7 separate regions of the Homo sapiens genome follow, and all the other regions are linked to region 1. The links come from fine-mapping of genetic effects on gene expression. A gene starts in region 1. Each other region holds a variant in brackets. All regions are shown on one strand. Distances are from middle to middle. Region 1 holds the start of RAB20 (RAB20, member RAS oncogene family). Region 2 overlaps COL4A2 (collagen type IV alpha 2 chain). Region 3 has its middle 13 kb from the start of COL4A2-AS1. Region 4 overlaps RAB20 (RAB20, member RAS oncogene family). Region 5 overlaps RAB20 (RAB20, member RAS oncogene family). Region 6 overlaps COL4A2 (collagen type IV alpha 2 chain). Region 7 overlaps COL4A2 (collagen type IV alpha 2 chain).

What was found.
Region 2: its variant is fine-mapped to the expression of RAB20 in whole blood (TOPMed, PIP 0.92).
Region 3: its variant is fine-mapped to the expression of RAB20 in whole blood (TOPMed, PIP above 0.99).
Region 4: its variant is fine-mapped to the expression of RAB20 in whole blood (TOPMed, PIP above 0.99).
Region 5: its variant is fine-mapped to the expression of RAB20 in tibial nerve (GTEx, PIP above 0.99).
Region 6: its variant is fine-mapped to the expression of RAB20 in whole blood (INTERVAL, PIP above 0.99).
Region 7: its variant is fine-mapped to the expression of RAB20 in monocytes after LPS (Fairfax 2014, PIP 0.95).

What each region holds. Positions count from the first base shown.
Region 1 is chr13:110,559,998-110,564,216 of GRCh38, forward strand. RAB20 (RAB20, member RAS oncogene family) reads right to left here and starts at 1,725. Exons shown (of 2, transcript NM_017817.3): 1 at 1,351-1,725. The coding sequence starts at 1,522. RefSeq lists silencers at 1,285-1,344, 1,324-1,513, 1,405-1,854.
Region 2 is chr13:110,484,432-110,488,650 of GRCh38, forward strand. COL4A2 (collagen type IV alpha 2 chain) reads left to right here. Exons shown (of 48, transcript NM_001846.4): 33 at 474-596; 34 at 1,224-1,405. Among named protein-coding and RNA genes, the nearest start is that of COL4A2-AS1, 22 kb to the right of the region's middle. RefSeq lists enhancers at 1-640, 641-1,478, 1,479-2,316, 2,317-3,153. The variant G/C (reference allele first, on the strand shown) is at 2,560.
Region 3 is chr13:110,518,649-110,522,867 of GRCh38, forward strand. No RefSeq gene overlaps it. Among named protein-coding and RNA genes, the nearest start is that of COL4A2-AS1, 13 kb to the left of the region's middle. RefSeq lists enhancers at 1-11, 3,208-3,287. The variant C/G (reference allele first, on the strand shown) is at 2,033.
Region 4 is chr13:110,538,319-110,542,537 of GRCh38, forward strand. The region is part of intron 1 of RAB20 (RAB20, member RAS oncogene family); the gene reads right to left. Among named protein-coding and RNA genes, the nearest start is that of RAB20, 21 kb to the right of the region's middle. RefSeq lists a silencer at 516-565. The variant C/G (reference allele first, on the strand shown) is at 1,842.
Region 5 is chr13:110,525,778-110,529,996 of GRCh38, forward strand. The region is part of intron 1 of RAB20 (RAB20, member RAS oncogene family); the gene reads right to left. Among named protein-coding and RNA genes, the nearest start is that of COL4A2-AS1, 20 kb to the left of the region's middle. RefSeq lists an enhancer at 435-504 and a silencer at 1,685-1,979. The variant C/T (reference allele first, on the strand shown) is at 1,672.
Region 6 is chr13:110,503,954-110,508,172 of GRCh38, forward strand. COL4A2 (collagen type IV alpha 2 chain) reads left to right here. Exons shown (of 48, transcript NM_001846.4): 44 at 1-40; 45 at 195-311; 46 at 2,462-2,653; 47 at 3,982-4,219. It overlaps COL4A2-AS1 (COL4A2 antisense RNA 1), which reads right to left. Exons shown (of 3, transcript NR_046583.1): 1 at 4,146-4,219; 2 at 3,694-3,798. Among named protein-coding and RNA genes, the nearest start is that of COL4A2-AS1, 2.1 kb to the right of the region's middle. RefSeq lists enhancers at 3,647-4,148, 4,149-4,219. The variant G/A (reference allele first, on the strand shown) is at 2,218.
Region 7 is chr13:110,467,002-110,471,153 of GRCh38, forward strand. COL4A2 (collagen type IV alpha 2 chain) reads left to right here. Exons shown (of 48, transcript NM_001846.4): 27 at 39-95; 28 at 2,216-2,323. Among named protein-coding and RNA genes, the nearest start is that of COL4A2-AS2, 5.8 kb to the left of the region's middle. RefSeq lists a silencer at 2,730-2,935. The variant C/A (reference allele first, on the strand shown) is at 2,096.

The DNA of each region.
Region 1 (4,219 bases):
CCAACCAGCAAAAGCAGCAGAGGGGCAAAGCTTTGTACAAAACCAAATTGGGTTCAATTTGACTTTGTACAGAAGCAAATTGGGTTCGTGAATTGGGTTCGATTTGACTTCTAGAGCGTGTGTTCCATCGTTACCAAATGCTCAGTGTGAGGGAGTCAGCTCAGTAAACCTCATCCTGCAGCCTGAGGCAGAAGACAGAGTTGGAGCAAAGATCAGGGAAATGCACCTCTTTACCTGGGGGACATTGTTTTCACAAGATGATTGCCAATAAATTAGTCACGATGTTAACTGGGATAATAATAAAAAAGCATCAAAGAAGGCAAAAGGGAGGGGGAGAACTGGAAGTACCTCTGTGAGCTTCGTTAATTCAGTTTTAAAGAGAGAATTCATTATCATCTTGTTTATTCAGCATACTGATACACCCAAGATGGCAATTTAAGAATTCTGGACGGGGCCTTTGGGTATATGACTTTTTAAGATGCTAACATAAAAGAAGTCAGAACTTTCAGAGTTTCAGGCTTCTAAAAACTCACACTCATTGAAAATGTGTCACACTATTTCCAGTTTCTTCATTCACTTACAATATCTTATTCTTTTGTAAGGAGAAGGAAATATATTCCATTGCAATGCTACAATCACCAGTGTTATTTTCCAAAGTTAAACAGAAAGCCTGAATTGAGATCCTCTAAGTTGTACTTTTGAAAAGTCACAAATACTACACAATAAAAATAACTCATTACCTATCTTAAAAATGCTTCCACCGGAAGTCACTCCAACCCAAACCCATATGACGTATCTGAGCCAAGATCAAGCAGAAGATTAACTGTAAAAGGCAGATATGCTCCGGGCTAAGAGGTCCGGAGGCTCCAGTTTTATTTCCTCTCTCCTGACTAAACCCAACAGGGGGGAACACTCTGTGCCTCATTTTACTTTTTCTTAGAAAGGGGCTAATAACACCAGCTCTGCTCACCCCTCAAGTGAATCTCAAAGGATATCATGTTCCTACGGGTACGTGAAAACTGAAAATACCTAACAAAGCAGCCACAGAGGAGCGTCTCTGGTTCCCAGGGCGGCAGAGCAGGAACGCGGGGCTCGGGAGCAAAGGCAGCTTAGGTACACAAATGACCAGCGGGTTCTCTGCAACTTGGGTTGTCCCTGAGGTCACTGAGTGGCTGAGAGGCAGCGCTCAGCCCAACCAGCAAGGGAGGACGAGTGGGAAACCCCGAGAAGGAGGCATTTGCTGTCCGAGGCCGGGACCCTGTGCGCGGCCGGGTGCCCTGCTGGAAGCCCCGCGCCCCCCGTCCCCGGCGGAGCCCCAGGGCGGTGTGGCTCATGCGGCGCCGGCCTCACCTGCGGTGTCCCAGATGGAGATGTTGTAGGAGCGCCACTGCTTCAGGTAGAAGGCGCCGCCCACCGTGCTGACCGTGTCCGGGAAGCGCCGCTCCATATACCGCTGCAGCAGCGACGTCTTCCCCACGTTCATGTCCCCCAGGAGCACGATCTTGCTGTCGGGCTTCCTCATCTTCCCGTAAGAACCCCCAGCGCCCCCGCGCCCTCTCCCCGAGGCTGGCCGGCTCGTGCGCCCTGGGCGCAGCTGGAGGAGCGGACCCCGGACTCGCCGGGACCCGGATTCTCGTGAACGCTCCGGGACCTTCGCCTCCGGACGCCCGGGAGCTCAAGAGAGGAAGCGCGTGTGCGCGCCCGGGAAGGAGCTGGGTGCAGAGCACGGAGCCCACGTCGGGGGCCCGGACCGCGGCGGCCTCGCCTCGCCCCGCCCCCGCCCCCGCCCCCGGGCCCTTTCACCGCCGCGGCCCCGCCCTATCCTCCTCCGCCCACCGCCCCCGTCCCGCCCCTGCTGGACCTCGCCGTTTCGCAAGCATCCGAGTTCTCCAGCCGAGGCTCGGGACTGCTGCAGGGTGGAAAATGAAAGTTCTGAGAGCACCTTCCGCCCCTCCGCTTCTGCACAGCCGGGGCTGCGGTGCGAGGAGCTTGGCCGCGGGGCCCGAACGAGGCGAAGGGGCCGGGGCCCTTGGGGAACCCCCTTCTCTCTTCCACTCTCCCTTAGGTAAAACCCGTGTTCCTCTCACGCTCGACCCAGCGCCTTTCCAGCTGCGGTCGATTTGCTTCTCCGCGTGTAAGTACAGCCACCCTCAAGGTCATTGAAAAAGTTTGCTTTAAATGAGCGTCTGCGGAACTCGTCCTGAGGCTCTCACTGTTACAGATTAGAGATGGGGGCGCTTTCTAGTGGAGGATTTTGCTTTTGCTCTTCTACTTTTGCAAGAAGCTTTTTGTCCTGAAAAGTGGACAGTCATCTCCATTTATAGCTTGGAATGAAAATTTGACTATGGAAGTTGCAGTCGCTACTTGAGAAATATTTCCTCCTTCTTTTTTTTTTTTTTTTTTTATTTTTGACACGGAGTTTTGCTGTTGTTGCCCAAGCTGGAGAGCAGTGCGCGATCTCGGCTCACTGCAACCTCCGCCTTCCGGTTTCAAGCGATTCTCCTGCCTCAGCCTCCCGAGTAGGCGGGATTACAGGTATGTGCCACCATGCCCGGCTAATTTTTGTATTTTTAGTAGACACGGGGTTTCACCATGTTGGCCAGGCTGGTCTCGAACTCCTGACCTCGTGATCCACCCGCTTCGGCCTCCCAGGTCCTCCTTCCGTTTTAAAGGATAAACCTTGAAATGCTTTTAAAATATGCAGCGTGTAGAATTTGGTTAGTTGGTTGGTTGGGGTTTTTTAGAGAAAATGAGAGGTAGAATGGACTCTAAGTTAAACCCTGGGGGACAGTGTCACTCTGGCCGCTGGCCTGGCTGGGAAAGGCGATGAGACCCTGAGCAGGTTAAAACCCGTGTCCTGAAGGTGTCCTGTAAAGGGAAATAGGCCCGTTGCCTCCTTCGTAGGTGCCCTGAGACTCCGACAAGGCAGGAATGCCAAGGTATTTCGTACCTGCTCAGCCCTGGCATGTCAGGTTGCTGAGACCGAGCAGTGTGGGGCTGAGGTGGAAGCGGACCTTCTGGGGCGTGGAAAGCGCACCAGGAGACCCCGGCTCCTTCTCAGCCAGCACTGCCTCATCCTCAGAACAAATTTAAGTCAATTCAGCATTTATTCAATGCCTGTTGCATGCAAGTGACAACCTAAATAACAGAGAGGATCTCTAAAAGAAACAGATATTTATTTTGCAATAGAGCTTTGCAGTAGAAATATGCATGCCATGGTAAACTTGTGCATATTCAGAGAGGCAAGGAAAGCAAAGGCTTTAAAAAAAATGAGGCGGATTGCACAATTGTTTGAAAATAATTATCTGTGGCTACAAAGATCCATAACGAAGGCGATGCCAGTTCAAAGTAGGACAGCCAGTGGCTGGGCCATGTCCTTGCAGGACTAGTTTTTTGTGGGAGATTGCAGTGGCCTTTGTGCAAGGTTGCGGTTTTTCCAGAGAGTCCTTTTTGTTATCAGGCATGCACGCGCAAGAACCCTCTCTTCATGGCCTTCCCCGGCTCTGTTTGTCAGGGTTTTCTTAACATTAGCGGCTCCATTTCGATTCTGACAATTTTCACACAAGCTACAGTGCCTGGCCTGGGACGACACAAACATGAGTCAGGTTTGGTGCCTGTTGGCCAGGCGCAGTGGCACACACCTGTAATCCCACCACTCTGAGAGGCCGAGGCAGATGGATCCTTTGAGCCCAGGAGTTCAAGATTAGCCTGGCAACATAGGGAGACCCCCGTCTCTATGAAAATTACAGAAAAAATTTGCCATGCATGGTGGTGTGCACCTGTAGTCCTAGTCCAAAGTTGCTTTGACTATTCTGGAACATTTACACTTCCATATGAATTCTGGAATCAATGTATCTAACCTCAGGAAACACATTAATGACATATATAGTTAAATTTAGGAAGAGTGGATATCTTTATAATATTAAAATGTCCCATTTATGAACATGGTATACCTCTCCATTTATTCAGCGGGTGTTCAAGGCTCACCTAGAATTTTTACACTTCTTTCTACTTTTTTACCATCAGGAAGTTTAATCACTTCCTGGAGCATGCTTTTTGATTCTCCAAATTTTACCCCCTGTCTGCTTCTCTCACCTGAGCTCTTTGTCCATTTCTTCATCCACCTACTAAGCCTTTCTACATGGATGTCTCAATATGGCAACCCACCACATCGTTCATCTGCCCTTCTGTAAATGCAGAGTCATTCATTCTTTCACCT
Region 2 (4,219 bases), 76 kb before region 1:
TCTCAGCTCCTCAGAACCCCCCGGAGACCTCCCTTCCATGCTTCTCCTCCCTGTGAAGGTGCCTACAGGAGGGCACGGAGCTGGCGCCTGCCTCACGGGCCTTCCTGCTTGTGACCGAGGTCCATCATGGTCTCATCAGAGCACACACAACAAAATGACCTTCTCACAAAGCATCCTATGGGAGTCACACTGGCTTTGACCGCTCCCTCTGCATCTGCTGGCAGGCACGTCCCCCTACTGTGGTGCTGTGTGCTCAGTGACACCAGCCCCAGGCCCAGGACCCTGGAGCCACCCCCAACTCCAACTACTCCGATGGACACAGGAGAGGCTTCTCCGGCGCCCTTGGTCTCTCTCCAAGGCTTCCCTGCTTGGGGGAGACGTGCAGCCCTATGGCTCAGGGACCAGGCCTTCACCTGTGTTCTCCTGCGTGGTCTGGAGCCCCCAGAAAATGACAGCACTCTATTCCCTTCCAGGCAGCCGAGGGGACCCTGGGCCCCCAGGACCACCTCCTGTCATCCTGCCAGGAATGAAAGACATTAAAGGAGAGAAAGGAGATGAAGGGCCTATGGGGCTGAAAGGATACCTGGGCGCAAAAGGTGAGGCTTCTGACCTGCAGCCAGGGGCCCCTAGTCCCTGCCGCCCCAGCCCGCACCAGCTCGTGCCCTTCTCCGTCCCCAGAGACGCCCGTGCCCTCCACCTGGCTTTCTTCGTGCTTTTCATCTCTGGGCGCCCTGTGTGTCCATAGCTGGCGCAGGGTTGTTCTCTGATGCCTGAGTAACCTCGGTTTCCCATCTTAAGATTTGCAGCACTGGCCGGGCGCGGTGGCTCACGCCTGTAATCCCAGCACTTTGGGAGGCCGAGGCGGGTGGATCACAAGGTGAGGAGATCAAGACCATCCTGGCTAACACGGTGAAACCCCGTCTCTACTAAAAATACAAAAAAATTAGCCGGCATGGTGGTGGGCGCCTGTAGTCCCAACTACTTAGGAGGCTGAGGCAGGAGAATGGCGTGAACCGGGGAGGCAGAGCTTGTAGTGAGCCGAGATTGCGCCACTGCACTCCAGCCTGGGCGACAGAGCGAGACTCCGTCTCAAAAAAAAAAAAAAAAAAAAAAAAGATTCACAGCACGTAGGACAGCAAAATGCATCCAGGCTGCAAAATTGAAAACTGGAGGGCGGGTGCTGCGTCCTCACCAGAGTGTTACACACCAGGGTCTTCCTGCAGGTATCCAAGGAATGCCAGGCATCCCAGGGCTGTCAGGAATCCCTGGGCTGCCTGGGAGGCCCGGCCACATCAAAGGAGTCAAGGGAGACATCGGAGTCCCCGGCATCCCCGGTTTGCCAGGATTCCCTGGGGTGGCTGGCCCCCCTGGAATTACGGGATTCCCAGGATTCATAGGAAGCCGGGTGAGTGGGCGTCTTTTACTCCCCTTGTTCTGTGAGCTCCTCTCCCCTTTGCTTGTGAATGGACATGCTTTGGTCTGGAATTTGCTAGGGTGAGAGTGTCAGTGGCAGGTTCAGGGCAGCCTCAGGCTTGGTGGGGTCCACACAGCCCTGGAAGGAGCTGCTGCACTTGGACACCATGCAGATGTGATGTGAGTCCAACCGGCTGCCGTGGCCCTTCTGTGGGCTTGTGCTGGGTGAAGCATGTTGTCTGCATTTTTCATGGTGGCCTTGAGAGAACAAAACTTGAATTTTCAGGGATCAGAGCTCTAAAATTGAGCACATCAGTGACACCAGGCCTGAGAGCCCATGGCCGAATCACAGCGTAGACCTGGGCCCGGCAGCCTGGCTTCCCATCCGGGCCACCGTTCACTCAGCCTTTGTTCAGCGGATGTCTGTTGAGCACTTGACATGGGCCAGACACGCTGTTGTGATGGTAACAATGGTGAGCCCTGACCCTGGGCAGGGCTCTCTTCTCCACACCTTCTCCCTCAGCTGCAGAATGAAGGTAGTAGCTACCTTGCAGTTTTCTTGAGTGCTGTATAGACAGTGTGTATAACATAGCACAGCGTGGCTCCCCATAGATTCCGTTTCCTAGAATTCCATTTCTAGCCTCGTTCATATGAAGATAGTGTATTCTCACAGTCCCTAGCACACGGCTGGCCTTCCCAGGGGGATGGGCACATTTGGAGCAGATCAGAAGGTCTGGGCCCCTTGATGTGTTTCAGTCGCGTCCGTGTGAAAAGACCACCAAACAGGCTTTGTGTGAGCAATCAAGCTGTTAATTTCACCTGGGTGCAGGCAGGCTGAGTCTGAAAAGAGAGTCAGCGAAGGGAGATAGGGGTGGGGCCGTTTTATAGGATTTGGGTAGGTAAAGGAAAAAGGGGGGTTGTTCTCTGGCGGGCAGGAGTGGGGGTCACAAGGTGCTCAGTAGGGGAGCTTTTGAGCCAGGCTGAGCCAGGAGAAGGAATTTCACAAGATAATGTCATCAGTTAAGGCAGGAACAGGCCATTTTCACTTCTTTTGTGGTGGAATGTCATCAGTTAAGGCAGAAACCGGCCATCTGGATGTGTACGTGCAGGTCACAGGGGATATGATTGCTTAGCTTGGGCTCAGAG[G/C]CCTGACAGTGTGAACCCTTAGTAGCAGGCCAGGGCCTGCCTGTGTGTCTGTCTGGCCCACCTTGGTGTACAGAATTCTTCAGGGGTCTTCCTCCCCTCACTCCCAAAATCTGCAGCTGAGAGTATCTTCTAGCCAGTCTGTGTGTGCTATTCAGGTCACTTTAAAAAAGAAAGATGCCAGCCAGGTGCAGTGGCTCTTGCCTATAATCCCAGCACTTTGGGAGGCCAAGGCAGGCAGATCACTTGTGGTCAGGAGATCGAGACTAGCCTGGCCAACAGGGTGAAACCCCGTCTCTACCAAAAATATAAAAAATTAACCGGGTTTGGTGCTGCGCACTCATAATCCCAGCTACTGGGGAGGCCGAGGCGGAAGAATCGCTGGAACCCAGGAGGCGGAGGTTGCAGTGAGCCGAGATTGCGCCGTTGCACTCCAGCTTGGGTGACAAAGCAAGACTCCATCTCAAAAAAAAGACAAGAAAAAAGAAAGATGCCTGTTTCTGCCAAAGACACCTACAACATCCAAAGGACCTTTATTCATAACAGCTCGAAACTAGGAAACAGCCCAAATGTCCATCAACAGGGAAAAGAATAAATGAACGTGGTATATTCTAACCAGACACAGCATTATCTGTGCATTTTATCTCCATACACAGCAATAAATGAGAATTCTTGGTAAAATCCAACAACCTAACTTCATTTCCAAACTTTATGTTGAACAAAATAAACCAGAAACAGAAAAGTACACGATTCAGTTTCATCGATGTGAAGTTCAAGAACTGACAAGGCTGTTAGATGGGGTATCGGGAGCACAGCTGCTTTAGGTGGGGTTGTCATAGAGTGCTGACAGTGTTCTGTGTCTTTCAGTGACACACGAGTTCAGATGCATTGAGCTGTGCGTTTAAGATGAGTGGACATTACTGTATTTAAGTTTTGCTTCAGAAAAGTAAGCTTTGAGAAAGAAAAATAGAGCATTACCTAAACAAAGGTGCAGCCTGTGGATACCCTCCCCCTTCCTCCCACAAAGGAGCTTTTGTTTTGTTTTGTTTTGTTTTTTGAGACAGAGTCTCACTCTGTCACCCAGGCTGGAGTGCAATGGCATGATCTTAGCTCACTGCAACCACTGCCTCCTGGTTCAAGCGATTCCCCTGCCACAGCCTCCCAAGTAGCTGGGATTACAGGCGCACGCCACCACGCCCAGCTAATTTTGTATTTTTAGTAGAGACAGGGTTTCACCATGTTGGCCAGGCTGGTCTTGAACTCCTGACCTCAGGCAGTCCACCCACCTCGGCCTCCCAAAGTGCTGGGATTCTAGGCCTGAGCCACCACCCCCGGCCTAGCTATATTAATACTGCAGCGACTCATGTTAGGCCATGCTTGTACATTGATGCTGTAGTACTAAAGTCCCAGTGGCACCCAGGTAGACCAGAACTCTCATGCTCCCTCTGGGGAGGAAGCCACTCTGGAGGGGAAAACTAGGGCTTCCAGGAAGCCACCGAGCAACTCAGGCATCTTCTCAATTTCCTTACCAGCCACCTGTGTCTTTCTGGAGAAGTCTCCCTCTGTGCACAGATGGAGGCGCACAGCCCCATATCTGTGTTATAATCTGCAGAGAGCAAGCTCTGCAGTCTGGCTGCCCAAACTGAAATCCCGGTTCTGCCAC
Region 3 (4,219 bases), 41 kb before region 1:
TCCACAATGACATCCCAAGAAAACAGCCAACGTAGACTGAGCTGGGAGGGCCTGGTGAGGAAGTGGGTGGGGCTGGGAGCCAAGGCCTGGGCGTGTCTCACTCCGGCCACTGACACCCTGACCCAGGAGGCACCTTCTCGGGCCTTGGGTCCACATATCCTCCAGCAAGGTGCCCTCCAGATCCGATACCTGAGGGCTGGGCCAGTGGCTTCAAGGCAAACACAAAGTGAAGGGGAGGGACACAGAGCTTCATAACCACGCAAGGACGCTTGCTCTGAAGGCGTCAGCTCTCCCTGAAGGAGGCAGCCTGGACCACAAGGGAGGACTGGGCCCAAGAGCTTCCAGAGCAGGCACAGAGGAGGCTGAGTGCAGGCGGCACATGTATGTGCAGGGTCTCTGCTGTGCGTGCAGGGTCTTGGCTATGCATGCAGGGTCTCGGCTGTGCACACGTGCAGGGTCTCGGCTGTGCGTGCGTGCAGGGTCTCAGCTGTGCGTGCATGCAGGGTCTCAGCTGTGTGAGCAGGGTCTCAGCTGTGCGTGTGTGCAGGGTCTCGACTGTGTATGCAGGGTCTCAGCTGTGTGAGCAGGGTCTCAGCTGTGCATGTGTGCAGGGTCTCTGCTGTGCGTGCAGGGTCTCTGCTGTGCGTGCAGGGTCTTGGCTATGCATGCAGGGTCTCGGCTGTGCGCACGTGCAGGGTCTCAGCTGTGCGTGCATGCAGGGTCTCAGCTGTGTGAGCAAGGTCTCAGCTGTGCGTGTGTGCAGGGTCTCAGCTGTGTGAGCAGGGTCTCAGCTGTGCGTCCACCCACCACACCCATCCTCTCTGTCCTGTTTCGACAATGAGGCTCGAAAGATCCAGCTCTGTGAAGTGGGAGGATGGAAGACCCCTGCACACTGTGGAGAAGAGTCTGTGCTTCTAATAAGGGCATGTAAGAGGACGAGGGCACCGGCCACTCTGCCTGGCCACAGAAGGGAAGATACGACCTGGACTCCACCAACCAGGGCTGGGAGGATCTGTGCCTTTGAAATCCTCCAAACACCTGGAGGCCACACCACGGCACTCCCACCAGGGTCTCTGGGGCCCGGGTCCCACTCTTCTTCCTTCTTCAGAGGTTTGTGGTCATTGCTCAGGAGGGACTCAGCCTGGTTAGAGTCTCCCAGGAGCACGGAGTGAAGGCCGAGCTCAGAGCCATTGCCCCTTCTCTCTGGAAGACAGGCACCATCTCCATGTCTCATGGGGTCTGTCTCATGGGCCTTGAGCAGCAGCTCACCTCTGCCGGAGGGATCCATGTGCTGGGAGCACCCGTGTGCTATGGGGATCCGTGTGCTAGGGGGACCCGTGTGCTGGAGGGACCCGTATACTAGGGAGATCTGTGTGCTGGGGGAGGGGGAACCCGTGTGCTGGTGGTATCCGTGTGCTGGGGGGATCCGTGTGCTGGGGGGGAGCCGTGTGCTGGAGGGACCTGTGTGCTGGAGGGACCTACGTGCTGGGGGGATCCATGTACTGGGGAGACCCGTGTGCTGGGGAGATCCGTGTGCTGGGGAGGGAAGCCGTGTGCCGGGGAGGGAACCCGTGTGCTGGGGAGAACCTGTGTGCTGGGGGGACCTATGTGCTGGGGGGATCCATGTGCTGGTGGTATCCATGTACTGGGGGAATCCACGTGCTGGGGAGAGAACCCGTGTGCTGGGGAGGGAACCCGTGTGCTGGGGAGAACCTGGGTGCTGGGGGGACCCATGTGCTGGCGGAACCCGTGTGCTGGGGAGGGAACCCGTGTGCTGGGGAGATCCGTGTGCTGGTGGGGGAGCCCGTGTGCTGGGGGTATCCATGTGCTGGGGGGGGCCCATGTACTGGGGGGCACCCGTGTGCTGGGGTGATCTATGTGCTGGGAACATTCATGTGAGGTTGTTTTCCTGGCACAGCAGGGCTGTTTAAACCAGGAAGTTGGGTCCAGAAATGGCAACGTCATACTCTTTAAGAAACTAGGCCTGGGAGCCTGGGGAAGGGGACATTCTGACTGACAGCACCCAGATTAC[C/G]ACATACCCAACCCCAGGACTCCCTGACACCACTGCCAGGCACGAGGCTTTAAGGGCACTAGGAAATACCTGGTTATGAGGTGTCATTGAGGAAAGGGTTCTCATCTGCATGGGGACATGGACAGCTGGAAAGTGCAGAAGGGAGCTCCAAGACCACACACAGCCATGAACCCTGGACCGTCACTTGCTCATCTCCTCCCTGGAGTGGCCGCTTTGTACAAAGGAAAGACGGATGCTCGAGGTCACGAGCTCAAACCCACACCCAGTGGGGAAATCTGCGCCAACAGCTGAGTTGCCCAACCGAGGGATTTCAAGCTTTCCAAGAACTGACGTGGTTTCTGGAAGGAAACAGAGGCCACATGAGATGAGGGTGGGGGAGTAGGACCCAAGACCAGGCTCCCCAGCGAGGAGCCAGGCTGGTATCCAAGGTCCACTTGGAATGCAGCCCAGGACACAGGGTGCCAGGGGGCCTGTGGCGGCACTGTCATTGAAACTGTCCCAATAGCTCAGCTCCAGGAAGGGCCGTGGAGAGTGCTCAGTGAGATGTGCTGAATTAATGAGCCCCTCATGCCCTTACAAAAGCACTTGTAAGGGCAGCTGGAAGTTGCTAGCATAGGAGAGACTGCAGCGCCGACTGCCCAGAGGAACTCATTTAAAAGGAGCCCACAGGGATGCTTATTTTTAGGACAACACATATAGGATGAAATGCTTAAACAGAGTTGATGGAGAATGTGCCACCCATGGGCACCATCCCCGGAGCACGCGGCCACTCGAGGAAACAAGCTGTTGGGTGCCCGGAGCAGATGGGAAATCGAATCCAAGACTGTTCAGGAAGAACGGGCCTCAGGCATTCATACAGCCCTCCCTGCCTTCAAGCACCAACTGCAAAAACAGTGCCATATGATACTTTCTCTCCCTTCACAGCCTTCAAAGAAAGACTCTGGCCAGGGCCAGAGCTCATGCTTATGATCCCCGCACTTTGGGAGGCTGAGGCAGGAGGATTGCGTGAGCCCAGGAGTTCCAGACCAGCCTGGGAAACACAGCAAGACCTCATCTCTACAAAAAATAAAAATAAAAAATTAGCTAGGCATACTGACACACCCCTGTAGTCCCAGCTACTCGGGTGACTGAGGTGGGTGGATCACTTGTGTTCAGGAGTTCGAGGCTGCAGTGAGTGAGCTGAGATTGTGCTACTGCACTCCAGCCTGGGCAACAGAGTGAGACTCTGTCTCAAAAAAAAAAAAAAAAAAGATTCCAAGGTCTCTTTGATTAGCCTATTTCCTAGATGGGTCACTAGCAAAGATACACATTATAGAAAATAAATATAACTTCTGTCCCTACAGTGGTATATTCAACCAAGTCAATAAAAAGTCACGAGTCAGGCTGATTTGCGTTCACTTCTCAATGGGCTGCTGTTGCGAAACTGAAGTTTTAAACTCCGAAACCACATCTCAGGGGAGCTGAGGACCTGCAATCGCAGGGGTTGCCTCAGTGCTTCCTCCTGGGGTTCAAGCTCCCTTCCTTGCCTGAAAGCACTCACTCCACAGGAGCGGAGAAGTTAGGCCTGCAGCAGCCCAGAAACCGGAGAGCACAGGCCTTCAGCAAATTATGAACAGCTCCCCAGAAAACAGAGCACCCTGTAATCCCAGCATGTTGGGAGGCTGAGTAGGGAGGATTGCTTGAGTTCAAGGGTTTGAGACCAGCCTGGGCAACATGGCAAAACCCCAACTCTACCAAAAAAAAAAAAATTATTGGGGCATGGTGGCACATGCCTGTAATCCCAGCATGTTGGGAGGCTGAGTCGGGAGGATTGCTTGAACCCGGAGGTACAGTCTGCAGTGAGCTAAGATCACGCCACTGCACTCCAACCTGGTGACAGAGCAAGACCCTATCACAAAAAAAAAAAAAAAAAAGAAAGAAAACAGCACTTATGAAACCCACTGCCCAGTGCCATCTGCCCCACATTGCCTCCCAACAAACAGCCCCGACCCCAGCCTGCTTTCGTTCAGTCACATTTCTGGGAAAACAAATCTGCTGTCTCCTGGCACCTCTGTCTGACATCTTCCAATAAAGCAGCCACCCCACGGCCAGCAGCAGCAGACCCGAAGGGGGTTTCTGACTCAGAGACCTGGGTGCTCAGATGCCCCAGACTTCAGCAGAACCAGAGCTTTAAGCTTTGCTACTATT
Region 4 (4,219 bases), 22 kb before region 1:
AAATAGGCCAGGCACGGTGGCTCATGCCTGTAATCCCAGTACTTTGGGAGGCAGAGGAGGGAGGATTGCTTGAGCTCAGGAGTCCAAGACCAGCCTGGGCAACATGGTGAGACTTTGTCTCTCCAAAAAATACAAAAATTAGCAGGGTGTGGTGGTGCATCCCTGTGGTCCCAGCTACTGGGTAGGTTGGGGTGGGAGGATCACCTGAGCCCAGGAGGCAGAGGTTGTAGTGAGCTATGATCACACCACTGCACTCCAGCCTGGGTGAGATCTTCTCTCAAAAAAAAAAAAAAAAAAAAAGAAAGAAAAGAAAAGAAAAGAAAAAGAAATAAAGAAAGGCTGAGCAAACCCAAAAGTCAAGCTATGCATCAAGAGCAAAATGCCTGAATCCACTCCCAGAAAACCAGCTCCCTGGGGACGGCTGTTTCCTCCCAGCAAGGCAGCAGGGGCGAGACCGTGAAAGAACCATCCTGTGTTCTCAGCTGTGCACTTCCCTCACGTTCTTACTCTGAGACCAAGCTTCCTCCACTGTCCCTGGCCAGGCAAGAGCCCCACAATGGTCACCTGTCACCATCCAGGAAACATCTCATGAAAACTCTGCTCAATTGTACCAAGAAAATACTCTGAGCCAACATCCAGCAGCCGGATATGACTGTGGGAGTTGACAACAACCCTACCCCTCTAATAGTAATGCTTTTCTGCCAGAAGAAAGAACTAAAACCTCAAGACAAATTAATCAATCACAGGAAGAAAGGAGGCGATTAGGTGACCTTATTTTTTAAATAAGCTAATAATTCAAATTCAGTAATCCAATGTAGTTGCTTGCATTTATAGTTGCTTTAATTTTGTTCTGAATAGTCTATGACAATTAAAGGGCATTCAAAAACATAGCTGTGCTTTATGACATAAAGGAGGATGATTACTTTTCTAGTCTAGCAAGTCCAAGGGTTTATATTGGTAATAAAATAAAAATCAGTATTGCAGTCCTGCTTAATGACTGTCTACATCCAGAGACTCAACTACCAGGACTGCTTGGCAAATACTGACCGACAGCCATCCAAACCCCTGCCCGCGAAATGAAGCTTTTTTCCTTTTTGAAAAAAAGAGTCCAAACCTAAAACTATTTCCAGTTAACGGAACTGCAACATATGAGGCAGAGGAGAATTATTCCAGGAAAATGGATTTTTCACCTTTAAATATACATCAATGCATTTTTTGTTTTTTGTTTTTGTTTTTGGGTTTTTTGTTTTTTTTTTTTGAGATGGAGTCTCACTCTTGTTGCCCAGGCTGGAGTGCAATGGTGCAATCTCGGCTCACTGCAACCTCCGCTTCCCGGGCTCAAGCGATTCTCTTGCCTCTGCCTCCCAAGTAACCGGGATTACAGGCACCCGCCACCACGCCTGGCTAATTTTTGTATTTTTAGTAGAGACGGGGTATCACCATGTTGGCCAGGCTGGTCTCGAACTCCTGACCTCAGGTGATCCACCCGCCTCAGCCTCCCAAGGTGCTGGGATTACAGGCATGAGCCACCGCGCCCGGCCACATCAATGCATTTTTACCCAAATCTGCATGTGTCATTTCTGTTGTTTCTTCTTGATGATCTGAAGGATAAACTAAAAATAAAGCAAGTGTCATACGCCACATGAACCACTCACATCACTAACTGCAGGTAGAGTAGTTCCACCTGTGGCCCACTACGTGGCTTCTGGAAAAATGATGAATGTAAAGCAGGAAGAAGCTTAGTTCTCAAGTCACATCACTCTTCAGACATGAATGTACTAAAAATAGTTCAATGACAAAACCAAATTACTCAGAGATGTTCTTTAACACTCCGATATTAA[C/G]AGAAACAGGCAAGTCCCAAAAAATACACGTATATAACAGACTTAGCTTTAAAACACACACTGGCACATGCCAGCATATGTAATCCAATCTCCTTTACCTTCAAGAGATACTCTGTTGTCCTGTAATAACGAATGTTTAGAATGAGATTATCAAATAAAAGTGCAGGTATTTGCTAATGTCTCCAAATAAAGTAAAACTAAAATTATTTCAGCTCTTTTCAAAGCACATTTTAACCTGTTTCAAAGTCAAGACTGAATTATAAATATCATATTAAGAAAACTTTTTAAATCTAAACAGGGAGGCCGGGCGCAGTGGCTCATGCCTGTAATCCCAGCACTTTGGGAGGCCGAGGCAGGTGGATCACCTGAGGTCAGGAGTTCGAGACCAGCCTGGCCAGCATGGTGAAACCCTGTCTCTACTAAAAATACAAAATTAGCCAGGCGGAGTGGTGGGTGCCTCTAATCCCAGCTACTCGGGAGGCTGAGGCAGGAGAATCTCTTGAACCCAGGAGGCGGAGGTTGCAGTGAGCTGCGATCGCGCCATTGCACTCCAGCCTGGGCAACGAGAGTGAAACTCCGTCTCAAAAAAAAAAAAAAAGTTAAAATAGTAAATTTTGTTATGTATATTATACCACAATAAAAAACCTCCACATTATATATGGAATATATACGTATCTCTCTCACGCAAAATAGTGTCTACAAAGAAGGCGAGGAGCTGGAAGAGCATGCTCTCCACTGCCCCGACCCTCACGGCTGGTCTCTGCTGGGCTGCAGCAAGCCCCGCGCAGCTGCCCATGCCCCTGGAATGGGAGTTACCTGGCTGTTGGGTTAAAGTACAGAATCTGGCTCAGGAGGCCTGGCTGGGTCCTGGGTTCTGCTGCTGCCAGCCCGAGGACCTTGCCGAGGAGGAGACGGCCACGCTTCAGCCTCTCATCAACCCAAGGTGAGAGCCGACCACCCCTCACTCTAAGTAAAACCTGACAGCTGATCTTTTCACACCTCACCACTCTCCTGCCTTCCTCTGATACTCTCCACCTGGTCACGGTCACGGCGCAGCAACAGATTCCTCAAGCAGTGAAAGCTGACCCCCAGGCCTCAGGAACATCACTCCTGCCTGGGTCTGTGGCACAGGGTAACAGGCCAGAGTTAATCAGATTTGGAATTAGTTAGGTTTAGAATGTGCTTTTGCAACTGCTGTAGAAAAGTGCCTGGCTAAGTAAACAATAGGCCACCAGCTTTAGCACATGGGAACGAAGTGTCTTCAAACAATCCAGAAATTGTTATCAGCCCAGGCACAATAGCAATACAACTGCCACATGAAAGCTCACCTCGTTCTTATCTTCTCATTAACACAAGATTCGCTAGAAGATTTCCAGTGACAATGTCAATTTGGAAAGTATTTAAAACTTCCTCCATTCCTTCTGACTTCTCATTTTTCAGGAAAAGCAGCCAAGTTAGCAGGGAACTGCCTGCCCTAATCTTGGTATTAGTGGAATTCTCTGGGCCAGAGCCCTTCGCCTGCCTGGGGCTCAGCTTCCTCAGTGTCCCTGCACCAACTGGATCTGATCCCTTTAACCAAATCAGTGTTCCTTCCAGGGACTTCCCTAAGGGCTAGCTGACTGCGAGTTTACTTCAAGTGCCAGGCGGAGTGTCCAGCCACACACACACACACACACACACACTCTCACATACATGCACGTACATGCCATGCACACATACACATACTCACAGTTGCATTTCTTTCTCCCCACTGTGTCCACATTTCACACATCTGGAATCAGAGACCCCAGATGCTCACACACGGAGACAGTAACCAGTGGCCACCATCAGCAGGAACGGGGTGCAAACAGCCTGGGGAAGGAACTGCCAAATAATAAGGGTGTTTGTTGGTTTTGTTTTTGTTTTGTTTTGTTTTAATTTTATTATTATTATACTTTAAGTTTTAGGGTACATGTGCACAACATGCAGGATGACGAGTTTTGTTTTGTTTTTAATCAGAACGCTTGCTGTATTTTATTCTCAGCTTTACTGGGGTATAAATGACAAGCAAAATTTGTAAATATTTCAGATGTACAACATGATATTTTGATGTATCATGAAATGATTACCCTATTAAGCTAATTAACACATCTATCACTGCACATAGCTACCATGGGTGTGCAGACAGAACATTGAAACTCCACCCTCTCAGCCAATTTCAAGCCTATCACATGGTACTGGTTAACTACAGTCACCTGCCTGGGGCTCTACATTAGACCTCCAGAACTTATTCAGCCTGCAGAACTGAACCTTCGTAGCCTTTGATTAAAAACTCCCCAATTCCCTCTCCCCACCCACCTGCCAGCTCCTTGTAACCACCATTCCACTCTGCTTCAGTG
Region 5 (4,219 bases), 34 kb before region 1:
TGGGGGGACGAGCTCTCAGGAAGCAGCTGTGGGAGAGGCAGCAGCATGCACCTTGGCCCCCACCTGCCTCTCGAGGACCGAGCAGGCTGTGCATGGCATGGGCCCTCCCTGCTGGCAGGAAGGGGCTTCACAGACGCTCCTGGTGATGCATTTGTTTCAATCACCAACAAGCAAACCCCAAGTGAGATCTTCCAACCACAAAGCACCTGCTCCCAACCACACCTGCCGGGGGCACGCTTTCGAAGAGGAATGAGACTGAGACCTGTGCTCAGACGCCATCCCAAGGAGCCTCTGCAGACAGGCCTGGAAGCTCCCATAGCACCTGCTGCAGGCCAGCTCATCCCCTCCTCCCTGGGGCATGTGTGGCCTCCCGGGCCATGCCCTTAGGCCAAGAGGAGGGAGAGCTGGGAACGACTGACAGCACTGGCCTCCACTCTCGAGCTCAGAACGCCAAGGTCAAGTGCCTCTGAACAAGGATGAGGCTGCTGGGGCACTGGCGCAGAGAGAGGTGGCACCCAGGGAGTGTCCAGGCCCCATTCCAATCCCTCGCCTGGGAGAAGTAAGCCTGGTTCTGATTTTTTAAAAAGAAGCTAACAATGTGGATTTTAATCTCCCAAGTTTTAAGCACTCAAAACTAATTCAAAATTTTCTAAAGATCACATTTAGGCAAACCAAAATGCAACAGTGGCCCATCATTGGCAGCTTCTAAATTATAAATGGTCCCATGTCACTCTGAGGGCAACTTCCCCTGAGTGTGTGGACAGTGTCGACCACTAGCAAGGGCTCTTAACCACTGGGGTCATAAACCAAATTCACAGGGTCCATGACCTTGAATGAGGGAGAAAACATCATCTTTGTTTTCACCACCCTCTACCTGAAATTTACCATTTCCTTTCACCACAAATATTGGCAGCAAACTGCAGAAATGGCAGTAAGGGGCACTCATCACCAACAGGGCCAGCAGGTGCTTCCATCCGCATGCCAGATGCCTCAGACACTCCAGCGTGATGCCCACGACCCTTCAGACCTGCCATGCCTTCATTCATTAATATGTGGACCATGAACCACATATCAATCATAATTTAAAAAGGCTCAAGACGACTGTACTTAAGGACAGCTGGTTACCTTTGTATGTGACTGCACGCACTTGGGCATAGTGTTCTGAGAAGGGGTCCTGGGCTTGTACCCCTCGGGGGCCGAGGGGTCTTGACACAAATGAAGTTAAGGCCCCTTGGTCTGTGGGGCTTTGGAGCATGGACTGAACGCATGACACCTGCACACATGTGGCTCTCTAAGGCAGACTGTCCTTTGCCAATAAACCACTGTTTAGAGCCAAATAGCCAAGAAGCACAACCAAATTTCATCCCATTCCCATCCCCAATCTTTCTGAAATGGCCACACATTCTGATGACGCCAAGTCCTCAAACCTTGCTGGGCGATGCTGCCTGGATTTTGAGGCAGGCTGGTCACCCCTTGGGCAACCCTGGAGAGAGGCGCCCACAGAGACACACACTCATGTCCTGTGAGAAGAGCCAGACAGACCTGTCTACTGACCACTGTGGTCTCCCAGGCCCCGAGCGTGGACTCCAGCTCCCCCTTCAGCAAAGCCGACAGTGTGCCCTTTGGGGATGTGGAGGGAAAGCGAGCTGGGAGCTGAGCCCAGACCAGCTC[C/T]GGTAGGAGTCAGAAGAATGTGCCCTGCTGCCAGTCTGAGGGTCAAAGTGCGAGAGCTACCCGGGTCACCTCCCTCTTCTGGGAAAAGCCAGCCTGGGAATGCTGTTGTTTGGGCGACAGAGCCACCCTGTTGGCAAGCAGCTTGTGCTCTGGAATTCAGCACCTGAAGGGCAACATTCCTCCCTTCCGCACGCCTACCAGGGGTCAGCTTCAGACTGAGAAGTCAATCCGTTTCCAGTCAAGCTGGACTGGACCCCAGCAGGCAGAAATCAGACAGTGTCCCCGGAATCCACAGTCATTCTCCCACTACAGAAGATGATGATCAAAAGCCTTTAAAACCCAATACAGCAGGCATTAGCTTCAAAAAGAACAGGCTAGGGCAGGAGGATTGCTTGAGGCCAGGAGTTGGAGCCCAGCTTGGGCAGCATAGCAAGGCTCCTATCTCTACAAATACACACACACACACACACACACACACACACACACACACACACATACACTTTAATTAGCCAGGCATGGTGACGCATGCCTGTAGTCCCAGCTACTCGGGAGGCTGAGGAGGGAAGACTGCTTGAGCCAAGGAGTTCGAGGCTGCAATAAGCTATGATCATGCCACTGCACTCCAGCCTGAGCAACAGTGAGACCCCATATCTAAAATAAATTTAAAATGGTAATAATAAAGGAAAGAAAAAGGCCGGAGACTCATGCCTGGAATCCCAGCACTTTGGGACGCCGGGGTGGGCGGATCACCTGAGTTCGGGAGTTCGAGACCAGCCTGACCAACGCAGAGAAAACCCATCTCTACTAAAAATACAAAATTAGCCAGGCATGGTGGCATGTGCCTATAATCCCAGCTACTTGGGAGGCTGAGGCAGGAGAACTGCTTGAACCTGGGAGGCGGAGGTTGCGGTGAGCTGAGATAGCGCCACTGCACTCCAGCCTGGGCAAGAGTGAAACTCCATCTCAAAAAAAAAAAAAACAAAAAACAGAAAAGAAAGAAAAATGCTTCTTCGTCATTACCACAGTACTAAGACTTTTGTTTCAGGGACACTAATCCCATAGATAACAGTCCAGGCATCATGAGGTTTTTACATGAGCTAAAAACGTCATCAGCTTCTACCCACCAGATTTCACAAGAGTGTGACTATGGGAATGCGGAGTCAGGGGCACTCCAGCTACCCTGGAAGAATGGTTTTCAAGTCTCTGTTACATAGTTCACTAGGGCCAAAGGGAGAACCGTGTTGATGCCTATGCCTAAAATAGTTTTCCATTCCAGATAAAAATGCCTGATTTGCCTTTAAAAAACTAAAAAAGGAAATAATAATATAAAAGGAAAGATCTTAGTAATGAAAGGAAACAGGAACTGAAGAATCACAAATGCTAGCCAGAAAAAAGTAAGAATTGTTGCTTGAACCCTATAATCTGTTATCTACCCATTAATGAATGCAAACCAATTAAATGCAGTTGCCCCAGCTAAAGAATTTACAAGCAAGCAGTTTTCATATTTGAAATTCTAAAATACTGCTTTGGAGATAATGTATAGCTTTTAGGATTGCTAATGGAAGAGTCAGGCTGCTCTCAATGAGCGCATTGTCCACACCAAGAAGGGCCAGTCCCGCAGGGAACAGAAGTTCTGAATTTAATCCTAATTGAATTTGAGTAGGGGCTCTGGTATGTAAGGCATGAGAGTGAACATAAGACAATGAAAATAAAATGGTGTCACTACAACTTGACCTTTTGCACTTGGCTTTGACAGATTCACAGTGTATTTGAATCCAAGGACCCTCACGCGTTTTCTGGAAGTTTGTGAATGTGCTCTGAGCCGGGCCGTCAGCCCCCTGCTGCCAACCCCATACACATGTCAGCCCCTGTATCTCTCAGAATATTGATTTCCTGTCTACAAGTATGGGCTTAAACTGAGTACTTCAAAGTCCCTCTCCCTGGAAACAGGATCAGGCATCTCTATCTCTATTGCCTTCTCCCCCAGACCGGAGTCCGTCAGTACCAATCGTGAAGCCAAAGCACTGAGAGTTCTGGTGGTTTACCTGGACTTTCCTGGAGAAATAAACAGCCTCAGGTCCAATTCTGGGGATGCCAGAGCCCCAGGCTGCCCCAGAAACAGGGCAAAAGAGAAAAATCACAAATTGGTTCAAATTCAACCAATGCAGCCAAGGGTCAGTGAGCTGCCAACCCTGGTCTGGTGAACGGAGCCAGGCTGCCGAGCCTGTGTGGCCACTACCAACACGGGCCTGACATCATCAGGGCTGGGGGCACGGGTTCAAGCCTGAGGAAGGAGCCCAGCCTTCCGCCAGACTCTCCCGCCTTTTTGCCTGGGCTGTCTCCAGGCCAAGCAGACGGGAGGATGGGTGAGTGACCGGAGCCTGGGGCTCTAGGTTCGACTTGTCCAGGAATTATTACTCGTCTATGTAGCAAATCCGTAAGTGATCTGCTCAGCTTTATGTCACCAACACATACAGACGAAGAGGTCAATTACCCCTGGTGGTGAGGGAAACCTGAATCTGTAAGAACGCCTCCAATGTCTGATCAG
Region 6 (4,219 bases), 56 kb before region 1:
CCGGGGGAGATGGGGCCCCAGGGCCCCCCCGGAGAACCAGGTAGAGTGCTGAGCTGGGGCCTGGAGCCCCTCGGGGCTGCCCGGGCAAGGCCAGGGCCTGCTGGCATTGCGTCCTCTTGTGTTCTCTTTGTGGATCGCCGGCCGTGCCAGGCGTGGTCAGTTTCCAGCCATAACGCTTCTTTGGTGGCTTGCAGGTTTCCGTGGGGCTCCAGGGAAAGCTGGGCCCCAAGGAAGAGGTGGTGTGTCTGCTGTTCCCGGCTTCCGGGGAGATGAAGGACCCATAGGCCACCAGGGGCCGATTGGCCAAGAAGGTGAGTGACAGTGGGGAAGGACCTTCCCAGGTCCTAGTGCTCTGGATCTGACTCACAGACTGTGGTCTGCAGGAAGGGGACACACGAGAGCCCAGAAAAGCCAGAAATGAGGCGCTGCCCCACCCTCCTGCTCCTAATCTGGGCGTAGCAGCTACACTCCTATGCCCAGCAGAACACCTGGCCCCGAGTCCTGGGACAGCCTCCCTCCTTTTCCTGGGACACCTGCGGTGCTGTGGAGTGGGCGGCAGGGATCAGTAGACTTCAAGGGTCAGGATTAGACAAGGAGCCAAAAGAAACCGACTATTAAAATGTACAAGAGCCGCACTGCGAAGCCCTGTCTTACTTTTTTTTCTTTTTTGGACAGAGTCTCGCTCTGTCTCACCCAGGCTGGAGTGCAGTGGCGCAATCTCAGCTCACTGCAGCTTCTGCCTCCCGGGTTCAAGCGATTCTCCTGTCTTAGCCTCCCAAGTAGTTGGGACTACAGGCATGTGCCCCCATACCCAGCTAACTTTTTTGTATTTGTAGTAGAGACGGGGTTTCACCATGTTGGCCAGGCTGGTCTCGAACTCCTGACCTCGAGCGATCCGCCAGCCTTGGCCTCCCAAAGTGCTGGGATTACAGGTGTAAGTCACCGTGCCTGGTCGTCTTATTTTTTAAAATTATTTGCACATATACAGAATGAAATAGGCCAGGAATAACAGCTATTCATGAAAAAAAAAAACCTCAAAATTTGTCTTAATCAACCTGAGCTCAGTTTGAGCCAATGGTCTGAGCATTAAAATTAAAATTAAAATTAAACATAGGGGCCGGGCGCGGTGGCTCACGCCTGTAATCCCAGCACTTTGGGAGGCTGAGGTGGGCGGATCACAAGGGCAGGAGATCGAGACCATCCTGGCTAACACGGTGAAACCCCGTCTCTACTAAAAATACAAAAAATTAGCCGGGCGTGGTGGCGGGCGCCAGTAGTCCCAGCTACTCGGGAGGCTGAGGCAGGAGAATGGCCTCAACCCAGGAGGTGGAGGTTGCAATGAGCCAAGATCGCGCCACTGCACTCCAGCCTGGGGGACAGAGCGAGACTCCGTCTCAAAAAAAAAAAAGAAAATTAAACATGGGTAGTACTATTGGTGTCCAAGTCAAAGGAAATAGCAGTCCCCTGCCCCTGGGGACAGATCCGCAGCCGGCAAATTATGGGTAGTGTGGGGTGCACCTGAAAACAAATGCCAGCAAATGGGAGCCCGCCCAGGGTAGGAGACAAGCTAGGGATGGTGGAGGGGAAGTGTCCTGGGAGAAAGGGCCATGACCATGGGTGTCCCTTGGAAGGGGAGGGGACAATGGGAGAAAGGGTCACTGGGGATAGCTGAGAAATATTCACAGAGCTGCTGTGCTGGAGGCAGATGAGCCACCCCCGTGTGCTCCTCGGGTAGGAGTTACAGGAGGCTGCACGCAGAAAGAACATTCTAACCCAGGCTGTGGTCAAGTGCGCAGTCAGCATGGCCTGCGATGAGCCATGTCTCCTGGAAGTGTCCAGCGGAGGGAGGCCACTGCTGGGGGTGGGGGCTGGCCTGCGATACTCCTCCGGACACTTCCAACGCCAGGCACGTTGGGCACATCCTGAGGGGCACATGCCTACCTATGGCTGACTGAGTCTTTTATGGAAAGGACCCCTCCTCTGTGCCCAGTGCCCTCACTGCCATCATTTCATGCTACTGAGAACAAAGTGTGGATCAAATCCTTCCCAAGAGTCTCCTGATCTCAACAGACTGAGCCCCAAGATCTGGGGAAGGAGAGCGATGGTTCTAGGCGCACCTGGAAACTGCCCTGCACTCCTGGGTCCCGAGGTTTCTGTGGGGCGGCTGTCAAGGGGGCTGCTCTCTCTCTCTTTCTCAGGCTGCAGGTGCACTAGGCC[G/A]TCCACTCTCTCTCTCTCTCAGGCTGCAGGTGCACCAGGCCGTCCACTCACTCTCTCTCTCGGGCTGCAGGTACACCAGGCCGTCCACTCTCTCTCTCTCTCTCTCTCTCGGGCTGCAGGTGCACCAGGCCGTCCACTCTCTCTCTCTCTCTCAGGCTGTAGGTGCACCAGGCCGTCCACTCTCTCTCTTTCTCGGGCTGCAGGTGCACCAGGCCGTCCACTCTCTCTCTTTCTCGGGCTGCAGGTGCACCAGGCCGTCCAGGGAGCCCGGGCCTGCCGGGTATGCCAGGCCGCAGCGTCAGCATCGGCTACCTCCTGGTGAAGCACAGCCAGACGGACCAGGAGCCCATGTGCCCAGTGGGCATGAACAAACTCTGGAGTGGATACAGCCTGCTGTACTTCGAGGGCCAGGAGAAGGCGCACAACCAGGACCTGGGTAGGTACCTCCCACCCGGCCCCCGTTGCCTGCTCAGGGCTGGCCCGGAAGTGGCCAAGATCAAAGGGCCACAGCGAGACTCCCAAACCCTCCACGGCTGGTAAGTTCCCCTGACGGAAGGGTCCATCTACATTCCTCGAGTGCAGAAAGATTAAAACGGCCTTTGAAGCAGAAGCCTTACAAAGCCCTTAAACCTCAGGACCTTAACACAGGGACCTGCCTTTTAACCTGGTATTGACTTCCGCAGGCTCCCATGTGACCCGTCTGACCCCCGACCCCTCTCCAGTGGAGACCACCAATTACTTCACCTCCTTCTTGTTTTTGACCCAAGTTCTGTAGACTTGGAGTCAGGCAGGGGCCATGAGGGGCTGGGGTTCATGTAAGACTCTCCCATACAGCCCCCCGAGGAAAATGGACCCATGGACACGTGTGCATGCTCTTATTTAAGGAAGCCTTTGAAAGGCATTAACGCGACTTCGAATACAGAAAATGCAATACACACAAATTACAAGTGGAGGTAGCTTAGTCTGAGGTCCTCTTTGAGGGGGTGACGGGAAGGGTCTCTGGGATACTGGCTGTGTTCTGCCTCCTCGGTGCAGGTTACATCAGGCGTTCTGCCCCCGGGAAGCATGTTGCTGGCTCATGGTGCCTTCACATTCCTGCCTGTGCGCCCCGCCTCCACAATGAGTTTCTAAAGAACAACGGGGCAAAGGCCGCCAAGGATAAGGGCCAAAAATAGATCTAGGAACAGGGCCAAGGAGGCAGCCTAGCACCGGGCATGTTTGCTAAAGGTGGCTGCACTTCTGGGTCTGAGCTTTTCAGCAATCCATGTGAAGAGGGAAACCTGCTTAGCTGCAGCATTCGTTGTGGCCAGGAGATAAAGGCTATCTTAGTCTCCAGAAGCAATAAAGCTACATGGAAGGGAGAAGGGCCAGGACTCCTTCTGGGGTGGCTCCTTGGGGTCAAAGAGCGACCCCTTGGAGGCCATCAGAGTTTTCTTGGGGCCAGTGCTGTTAAGACCCCACTAAGGTAAGGCTCACCCAAAATGCTATTCCATGAAGACGCCACTCCCTGGTGATCCAACTTGGCCCAGTATGTGTGAGAACTTGTAGAAGAACAGAGCTGTTCCAAAATGCCAGTGGAGTCTGATCAAAAAGAGAAAAAGAAAGAAATTGGGAAGCCTTAGCCTGGCCCTCCAGTAGGTGGCTAAACTCCACCAGGTGCCCTGGGGCGAGTCCGTGACACACAGCCTCCTGGGCCTGGCTGGGGCTGGCAGGTGCGTCTTCTAGCCACACTGCACTGTGATCTCATGACCCCTCCTTCCACAGGGCTGGCGGGCTCCTGCCTGGCGCGGTTCAGCACCATGCCCTTCCTGTACTGCAACCCTGGTGATGTCTGCTACTATGCCAGCCGGAACGACAAGTCCTACTGGCTCTCTACCACTGCGCCGCTGCCCATGATGCCCGTGGCCGAGGACGAGATCAAGCCCTACATCAGCCGCTGTTCTGTGTGTGAGGCCCCGGCCATCGCCATCGCGGTCCACAGTCAGGATGTCTCCATCCCACA
Region 7 (4,152 bases), 93 kb before region 1:
GATTGCTTGGGCTCATCTTTTCTCCTTTCTGTCCCCAGGTTGCATAGGAGGGCCCAAGGGATTGCCAGGCCTGCCAGGACCCCCAGGCCCCACAGGTAATGCACGGAGGGAACCTGGAGTGCACCCAGCCTTCCTCCCACATCTTCACACTGCTGTGTCTCCCCCGCCCATCTTTCCTCTGGTCCTGCATCCCCCACCCCAGACATGGTCGTGTCCAGCATCTCAGCACAAACTGGTCTTGCGCCTACAGGGAGCCCACTGTCATTTGCCACTATAGAAAAAGGAGTCTGGTAGCTGACACTTAGTTGGGGCCAGGCTAGAAGAGAAAATTCAGCCATGGCTGCAGGGGAACGCCCCCAGGGGCAGAGATGGAAGCCTCGTGTTTAGGACTGGAAAGGGGTTGCACTTCTATGTATTTTCTTTTTATGCCTTTCCATCCCAGGATCTAGGGGAAGAACCTACAGGAGAGGATGCTTTCATTTGGGTTTTGATTAACAGGAAACGGGAATAAACAAGGCTAGAGTGTTTTGTCTCTAGCACCTGGGAGGACCTGGGCTTCTATCTGCTGGCCCAGGCCATCTCTCAGCCCATGTGAGAAAGAGTCTGGGTGCCCTTCACAGAGCCCATGCCTAAGGCCGCCTGCGTGTCCAGTGTTGGCGGTGCAGGCCTGGCTGGCCACCACTGCCGTCCCGCCTGCGCTGCGATTCTGCTGCCCTGCACTCCAGGGTCTCCGTGGGCCTGTGAGCATCGGGGAACACAGAGCCAGGGCTTCCACTCAAGCAGGAGGAGGGCTGGACCCTGAGAGGTGGCTCTATGCCTGTGTCCATCAGCCTGAGAAAAGCAAGTTCTCTGAGCAGTAGGAATTCCCCTTTGGATGTCTCTTCCACTCGGCCTGTGATGGGGCCGGGGAAGCATGTCACTTGGGTAACTCAGTGTCACAAGCACCAGACACAGCCAGAGCTGTTCTCACTTGTTTCTTCTGGAACTAAGTCCCCACCTATGCAAGATGAATAGTGCAGACAGGTGTTCTAGATGCTTCCTGCTGCACAAATCATGCCCTCACTGCTTCCCGTGATAAACTGTAGAGAGCGACACCAGTGTAGTATGAACAGCAATGAGAGTTAGGAAAGTGGACGGACACATTCTATGTGCCCTGCACCTTAAGGGGGTCTTCGGAGTGCACCGTGATCACAGGGCCTGGGGAGCACAGGACAAATGCAGAGGTATCATTTGCACTGTGAGCAGAGGTAAAGGCTCCTTGTGTTGTCTTCTGAGAACTGAGCTTGTATCTTCCGCGTTCCATTAGACCTGCCCCCGGTCTAATTCCATCCATGGATTTCAACACCGTCACTCATACAGCAACCCCCAAAATGGTGACAACTCTGCATGTCTCAGGTGGTCAGGGAGAACCAGAGGCCAGCACGCTCAGCACACACCCAGACTACAGCCGTGTGCCAAGGCCGGTCTCCGGGAAAGCTCCAGTGATGCGAGTGTGGGTTTCTGAGGCTCCGGGGCTCCCCCAGCCATACCCAGTTATTTCCATTTCATGCCCAGGCCCCCATTACTGGGAGCCCCTTGCTGGCCTCCCATCCGCTCCTCCCTCTCACTCCTGCTGTCCGCACTCCACTTTCTAAGAGTGAGGGTGGGTTTGATCACACACATCCCCTTCCCAAGAGGCGCCAGGAACGGGGATAAAAAAGTGTGGCAGATGGGTTTTGTGACATGGCTGAGGAACCTCAGCCCTTCAATTATCAGAAAACACTTCTGGAGCCCACACACTGGGCCAAGCAGGATTCAAGTGTTTGAAAAGAGTCACCTCATAGTCCTCGTGGCGTCCTCATGAGGCAGGCGATCCTTCTCCCCACTTTACAGGTGAGGAAACTGAGGCACAGAAAGTTGTCCACGGTCACACAGATAGAATGGTAGGGCCAAAATTTATAGCCAAGCATCTGACCCCACCTCCAAAGCCCTCATTTAGAGCACTGTAGAATCTAAATATTGGATATTATCATTCTTATGGTTCCAGTCCGTAAACAGGATTTTAAACACTGAAAATCATTCTGTAAGCCTGGAGGTGCTGTTTCAGGCTGATATT[C/A]CCCCCAGCCTCATCATTTCCCGGTTTCATGAGATCCACATTAAGTCAGATGCCAAGCATGACCATGCCCATTTATCCTCGTGGAGCCTGATGTGGTTTGTGGTTTATTTGGTTATTTAGGTGCCAAAGGCCTCCGAGGAATCCCAGGCTTCGCAGGAGCTGATGGAGGACCAGGGCCCAGGGGCTTGCCAGGAGACGCAGGTCGTGAAGGGTTCCCAGGACCCCCAGGTGAGTTGAGATCAGACCCCCATTCAGCCCCTGGGTTCCAGCGGGAACCTGTGTGTGATTCATAAGCATCCAGCTCTATTATCTTCCACTTTGTAGAAGCTGTTTTAACAAATACTTGACAACTTTTGCATTTGTCCTTGGGAGATTAGAAATTCTTGATTTTTCATAACTGATATTGTACTGGGTTTTTGCAGAAGCTATCTACAGATCTTGCAGGAAAAAGGAGACAGGTGTTTCGGAATGGCTGTCCTCCGCAACACCTGTCTCCCAGGTATGTCCTCAGTGTTAATAATGATTAATATTAAACATTCTAAGGGCAACACAAAGTTATCCTCTCCTGAAAGAACCCTTAAAGGCATAAATAGCCCTCTCACAATGTGGCTGCAAGAGCTTAAGGCATTAATCTGTATGTGGAGGAAAATGAGGTTTCCCTTAACCAGCTCTGGTGAGGAGTACCCACTTGCGTGTCAGCATGCTCTGGAATGCAGCCAGGCGTCTGCAGACATAGGTGTCTTGCAGTTGTGCCACAGGCGATGTGCATGAGTGTGATGGCACTGCCTTGATTGCAGGGGCATACACGTCTTTTTTTTTTTTTTTTTTTTTTTAATGAAATGGAATCTCGCTCTGTCACCCAGGCTGGAGTGCAGTGGCACAATCTCAGCTCACTGCAACCTCCGCCTTCTGGGTTCAAGCGACTCTCCTGCCTCAGCCTCCTGAGTAGCTGGGATTACAGGCATGTGCCACCACACCTGGCTGATTTTTGTATTTTCAGTAGAGACGGGGATTTCACCATGTTGGCCAGGCTGGTCTCAAACTCCTGACATTAGGTGATCTGCCCGCCTCAGCCTGCCAAAGTGCTGGGATGACAGGCGTGAGCCACTGTGCCAGGCCGCACACATCTTCAATAGTGTTTGTCTAATGAAACCATGGAAGCCATTGTGGACAACTTTCCACCCGAGATGAAACATCCTTCCACAGGGTCCTGGGCAGGTTCCTGCAGCCTCTGCTGGAGTCCCACTTGTCACCTAGAACCTGTGGCACATTGGAACCCTCTTGTTGCTAGAAAGTTCCTCCCTGGAATACAGCCTGCCTCCCAGGGAGTTCTCACCGGGCTGTTCCTGAGCCACACAGTTGACTTCCTCATAACCACACACCCTGAGAGAGGCGGCCACATCTCCCACAGACGTCTCATGAACAGGCAGAACTGACCCCGGGAACACATACTTTCTTTTAATGACATCGTTCCATGCCCTTGGAATTCTGAGCAACCTTCTAGGACCCCCACTTATCAGGATTCTTTTCCAACTGGGCTCTAGAAACTGAATAAAGCGCTCCCCATGTCTGGAATATCACACAGAACATCGGGACTGTTGCGCCCTTAGGTTGAACATCTTGCAAATGTTCCCAGTGAAGACTAATTGAACCCTGCCCCTCCCCTGACCTCCACTCAGATAGCTGATTTAAGCCTCAATGCAGAAGTGTCTGTCCGTCCCTGATAGATGGTATCTTTCGGAATTTTGTGTTGCAGCCCGTAGGGATTGTTCCAAACCCTGACCCTGTTTCCTTTCATATGATGCGTTTCTCCATGTTTTGCAAAATTGGGAAGCAGGCTTCCTGTGTCTGTATCAAGGCCCTGGTAAAAACAACTCTGCATTCGAATGAAGCAAAGGAAGTCTCCATGCCTCTGCCCCAGGGGTTGGTCTCTGTGGTTTTGTTGCCCTGCTGGAAGTGTCTAAATATTTAGAAGTGTAACATTGCCACTCTCATGATTTCATATATACTAAGTTTAAGCATTCATGATTTTGAGAGAAGGATAATAATTCCTGAAC